Regions from separate parts of the Homo sapiens genome. Here region 2 is linked to region 1. Evidence: fine-mapped QTL for protein levels in blood plasma. A gene starts in region 1. The other region holds a variant in brackets. All regions are shown on one strand. Distances are from middle to middle. Region 1 holds the start of ASIP (agouti signaling protein). Region 2 has its middle 19 kb from the start of RALY.

The links. PIP is the posterior inclusion probability: the model's chance that the variant is causal. Protein levels are from the aptamer-based SomaScan assay of Sun 2018.
Region 2: its variant is fine-mapped to the plasma level of the ASIP protein (Sun 2018, PIP 0.95).

Annotation. Positions count from the first base shown.
Region 1 is chr20:34,239,683-34,242,596 of GRCh38, forward strand. ASIP (agouti signaling protein) reads left to right here and starts at 1,741. Exons shown (of 4, transcript NM_001672.3): 1 at 1,741-1,807. It also overlaps a transcript of AHCY not described here. RefSeq lists enhancers at 1,540-1,609, 1,630-1,779, 2,833-2,914.
Region 2 is chr20:33,973,114-33,976,027 of GRCh38, forward strand. No RefSeq gene overlaps it. Among named protein-coding and RNA genes, the nearest start is that of RALY, 19 kb to the right of the region's middle. The variant CT/C (reference allele first, on the strand shown) is at 1,156.

The DNA of each region.
Region 1 (2,914 bases):
CAAAGCCTAAACTGGAATCCAGATCTCCTGACTCCCTATTCACTTATCTTTCCAGTTGCCCTTGTCTCTACAAATCACCAAAAGAAATTGGTTCCTAGAAATAAGGATAATGTAGGGGTGTGCCATCCCCTATCCCACTCTTCTGCACCCATCACCACGAAAACAGACAATGTTTATTGCAGGGCCCCATATTAACCTACTTTCTTCTGCAGAGCCTCTAAGCTCCACATTATCCAGGAAGCAATACATTGTGACTGTTGAAGTCAAAATAAAACATAGCGATGAATCTCTAACTTTAAAGCATTCTATTTTGGAAGCAAGGATTGCAGTTTGAGGCATACACACTAACCAGGTGGTCTTCAGTGTGTCTGAGGAACAGAAAGAAGGTTGGGAGTTTTATTAGAGAAATGTTCTATACTGTTTTGAAAGAAAGCTCATTGGCACTAAAGAATCATTTGGAAAGAAGGGAAAAAAAGAGAAAAAAGAAGCATTTGGGAGCTGGCAAACTCTGATTGGTGAGTGATGGTGGTAGGCAAAACTATTCTTAAAGTCATGTTTCAGCAGCTACTAAACTAGTCTTGGGGTTACAGCAGGCCATTTTAGCAGCTGGGCTTGTGAAAAATTTAATTCATGGAGCAGGTGCTGTGCCCCAAGTGCTTCTTCCCTCCTGGTCCCTAGACTCTGATTTAGTTGGGTATGACAAGAATGACCCAGTTTGTGTGATCAGCTTTCACATAACCTTGTAAATTCTAGTTGATCCAAGGAAAACCAACTAAGTAAGGAGAAGAAAAGAACTGCAGCGTCATAGTTTTTGAGTCTGTGTAAGTACAGCCCTTTGACTGAAATCTGAAAATTATGAGACCAATATTCCTGCAAAAAAAGGTCCCAAAGAGATTTTACTAATAAGGTGGGCTGGGCCTCAGCAATCTGCCCATCAAGAGTTTAGCTTCTCCACCAACTACTCCTTAACTCACCCGGAATTTCTGAAACAAGCTGAATTAGACCCTTCTTTGGCAGGACTTGTTTTTCTAGGTTAACTCAATTAGACTGTTTTATTCCGTCTCTTGGGATCCATTCTGAATTAAATTTTCATTAAACTCTGCCCTTGGAGTATCCTTGATGCAACCACTTCCCTTCCAATCCCTTGTAACCTCAATGTCAACATCAATTCCAATTCTAAAGAATTGGGAGAAATATGGGAAGAACAGACCACAAGACTTCTGGCAACCAGAATGAGTATGAAGGCATGACGTTTGCTTGGCTGAAAGCAAAGAGATGAGGTGGGGAAGCCAGCTCTGGGAGATCCTGGGATCTTTAAAAAATCTCAGAGCAACACGCCTTGCCTCTGCTATCCACGGACAGGAAAGACGCTCTGCTTTGGCGACCCTTAGAGGGGCTAATAGAGGCACAGTCACTTGCACCGTAAATAGGAGGAAACAATTTTCTTTTCTTCTGCCGCCTATAGAGATTCTATTTTCTTCTCTAAGTTTAACTTTTATATGAACTGGGTTGCTAGAGAGCTCCTTTGTAAAATAAAGGATAACCCTTTACCTTTTGCTTCTTTTGTAAAACCTCTCTTGATCTGCTTGCAGCTGCCTTTCAGCTGATGAAACATTTCCTATTTTCACTGTGGATCTGAAAGAACCTTCCTGCCTGTGAGATGTGGTGAAGTTTGAAATAATTTTGTAGTATGATTGGTTGTTTTCTTGTTCTTGTCTTTGAAGTTATAGATGAGCAAGCAGCAAATCTCTACAGCTGCAAGGTGAAAAAGGAAGTTCCTTGGCCTGGGCTCTTTGCGGGAAAGCATGTGAGTTTAGATGGCAACTTTAATCTGCTTTCAGGAGTGAAGCTGCTGCTACTTTGGAAAGTTGAAAGGACTTAACAGTTATCCCTCCTTTCTTGGAAAGTTAAACAGATTTTTTTGATTCACTTTTGTGGGTCAGAGTAGTTAAGAGGAGTTCAGTGTGAAGAAAGCAGTTGATCTTTTGCTAACTAGTGGCTTCTTTCTCTTTACTCTGTGCCTTTTCCATTGCCTAGCAGTAAACGAATAAATAAATATATCTATATGTATATCTAAGAAAGAAGTACTCCTAAATATCGACCCTGACCCCAAAGTCACACTTTAATGCTTCTTTAAATGTCTTCAGAAAGTTGCTTGTGGTTTCAGATTTCTAATAACTCTTACAGAGCAGAATTTAGGATTTAGGGATCAGTCTGCACGTGTAGCATTTGTTCATTTCATATTTATTAGAGATGAAACAGATGACCAAAATTCCATTTATTGCAGACTCTCCTTTTCCTTTGTAAATGTTTGACTTTTCTGAATGGATATCCATATTCACACATTTTAATGCCCATTAAAGGAAGCTCAGGTTAATGTTTTCAATTGTAGGTGAGTTCGCTCTGCTTCAGTGATATGGAACATTTTGTTCTGCTGTTTCCATTGGAGGAGATTAAAGAGGCTAAATGGGATGGCATAGTGAAGTCATTTTTGGTTTCCTTTTTAAAATTTTTATTTTATTTTATTTTATTATTTTTATTTTATTTTATTTATTTACTTATTTATTTTTGAGACGGAGTCTCACTGTCACCCAGGCTGGAGTGCAATGGCATGATCTTGGCTCACTGCAACCTCTGCCTCCTGAGTTCAAACGATTCTCCCACCTCAGGCTCCTGAGTAGCTGGGACAACAGGCACACACCACCACGCCTGGCTAATTTTTGTATTTTTAGTAGAGACAGGGTTCCACTATGTTGGCCAGGCTAGTCTCAAACTCCTGGCCTCAGGTGATCTGCCCACCTCAGCCTCCCAAAGTGCTGGGATTACAGGCGTGAGCCACAGCACCCAGCCAGTCATTTTGGGTTTTCTTTGGTTATTTTGGATGCCTTACTGGGACCCACTCAAAAAACAAACA
Region 2 (2,914 bases), 270 kb before region 1:
AAAGGTGCTATTGTAAATTCTCAGAAATGGAATTGTTGGGACAAAGAGCACATGTATTTTTAATTTTGATGTTTCCAAATTATCTTCTATAGGTATTGCACCAACTTATATTCCTTATTCTCCTGAGACTGCCATGCCCCCTCCACTGACTCTCTGCCGACAGATAACATGTTAGGGTCTTGCTAATCTGATAGTTTAAAAAAAGTGAAATTTATCTGAGTTTTGAGTCATAATTAGGTAGGCCTTTTCCATGCCCTCAAAATAAAGGAATTTTCCTATGTTTTCTTTTAGTGTCTTTACTTTTTTTTTTTTTTTTTTTTAGACAGAGTCTTGCTCTGTTGCCAAGGCTGGAATGCAGTGGCGTGATCTCGGCTCACTGCAACCTCCAGCTCCCGAGTTCAAGCGATTCTCCTGCCTCAGCCTCCCGAGTAGCTGGGGCTACAGGCGCGTGCCACCACGCCTGGCTAATTTTTATATTTTTGGTAGAGACGGGGTTTCACCATGTTGACCAGGCTGGTCTCGAACTCCTGACCTCAGGTGATCCGTCCGCCTCGGCCTCCCGAGGTGCGGGGATTACAGATGTGAGCCACTGTGCCCGGCCAACATCTTTACTTTTTTATTTGAATCTTTGATCCTTGTAGAAATTATCCTGAGCTGTATGTGGTGGCATGTACCTGTAGTTTCAGCTACTAAGGAGGCTGAGTCGAGAGAATTGCTTAAACCCAGGAGTTGGAATCTAGCCAGGCAGCATCACCAGAGTCCTGTCTATCTTTTAAAAATTCCCCTATCTTATCACCAGGAATTAGAGACCAAAAAAGAAAAAAAATTACCTGGTGAAGAGAGAGAGGAATAGATCTAACTTGTTGCTGTTGTTGCTTTCTATCATATGGGTACCCAGTTTTCCCGTCAACTCTCTTGAAACAGTCTATCTTATCTCCTCTGGTGTAAGATGCGACTATTATCATATACTTAATTCCTGTGTGTATTTTGGATGTATTCTAGGCTTTCTAGTCTATCCGGCTAGTTGTCTATCTATTCATACAACAACACTATACTGCTTTAATTATTATTTATAAAGATTGTATCTTTGATAGCGGTAGTCCTCTCTCATTCTTTTTCTTTTCTTATTTATTTATTTGTTTTATTGTTTCTTTT[CT/C]TTTTTTTTTTTTTTTTTTGAGACAGAGTTTCACTCTTGTTGCCCAGGCTGGAGTGCAATGGCATGATCTTGGCTCACCGCAACCTCCGAATCCCGGGTTCAAGCGATTCTCCTGCCTCAGCCTCCCGAGTAGCTGGGATTACAGGCATGAGCCACCACGCCCAGCTAATTTTGTATTTTTAGTAGAGACGGGGTTCCTCTATGTTGGTCAAGCTGGTCTCGAACTCCCGACCTCAGGTGACCCGCCCACCTCGGCCTCCCAAAGTACTGGGATTACAGGCGTGAGCCACTGCGCCTGGCCTTCTTTTTTCACTTTTTTGTAGAGATGAGAGTCTTGCTTTCTTGCCCAGGCTGCTCTTGAACTGGCCTCAAGGGATCCTCCTACTTCAGCCTCCCAATGTGCTAAGATTACAGCTGTGAGCCACCACACCCAGCCTTCTTATTTACATTTTTAAAGTTAACTGTAAAACATCCTCAAGCAGGTCCTTCAGGAGGTATTCCTGAAGAAGGCATTGTTATCATAGGAGTTGACAGCTCCATGTATGTATTGCCGCCGAAGACCTTCCAGTGGCATGAGATGTGGGTGGACCTGGAATATGATGATATTGATGATCCTGATCCTGTGTGGGCCTAGGCCAATGTGTGTGTTTGTGTCCTAGTTTTTAATTTAAAAGTTTAAAAAATAAAAACAAAAACCTTCAGAATCAAAAAAGCTTATAGAATAAGCATATAAAGAAGGAAAATAGTTTTGTGGAGCTGTACAATTTGTTTGTGTTTTAAGCTATGTATTACAAAACAGTCAATAGGTTTTTAAAATTTTTTAAGTTTATAAAGTAAAAAAGTTACAGTGAACTAAATTTATTTTTTAAGAAAAAAGATACTTTTCATACATTTAGTGCAGCCTTAGTGTCCAGTGTTTATGAAGTCGACAGTAGTGTACAGTAATGTCCTAGGCCTTCACATTCAGTCACCACTCACCCACTGATGCACTTAGAGCAACTTCAGTCTTGCAAGCTCCATTCATGGTAAATGCCCTATAGAGGTGTACAATTGTATCTTTTATACCATATTTTTACTGTACCTTTTCTATGCTTAGATATGTTTATTTATTATTTATTTATCTGGGAGACAGGGTCTTGCTCTGTCGCCCAGGCTGGAGTGCAGTGGCGCAATCTCGGCTCACTGCAACCTCCGCTTCCTGGGTTCAAGTGATTCTCTTGCCTCAGCCTTCCGAGTAGCTGGGATTACAGGTGCGTGCCACCACACCTGACTAATTTTTGTATTTTTAGTAGAGATGGTGTTTCGCCATGTTGGCCAGGCTGGTCTTGAACTCCTGACTCAGGCGATCCACCTGCCTCAGGCTCCTAAAGTGCTGGGATTACAGGCGTGAGACACTGTGCCCAGCCAACTTAGATATGTTTAATTACACACACACTTCCCATTGTGTTATAATTGCCCATAGTATTCAGTATGGTAACATGCTGTATAGGCTTGTAGCCTAGAAGCAATAGGCTATACCATATATATGTCTATGGTATAGCAATAGGGTGTGTAGTGGGTTATACCATCTAGGTTTGCATAAGTGCACTCTATGATGTTCTTTGCACAAGGATGAAATAACCTAATGAAGCATTTCTCAATATTTATCCTCACGGTTAAGTGATGTATGACTATTTATATATATATATATATATATATATATGTGTGTGTGTGTGTGTGTGTATATATGTGTATATATATACACGTATATATATATAT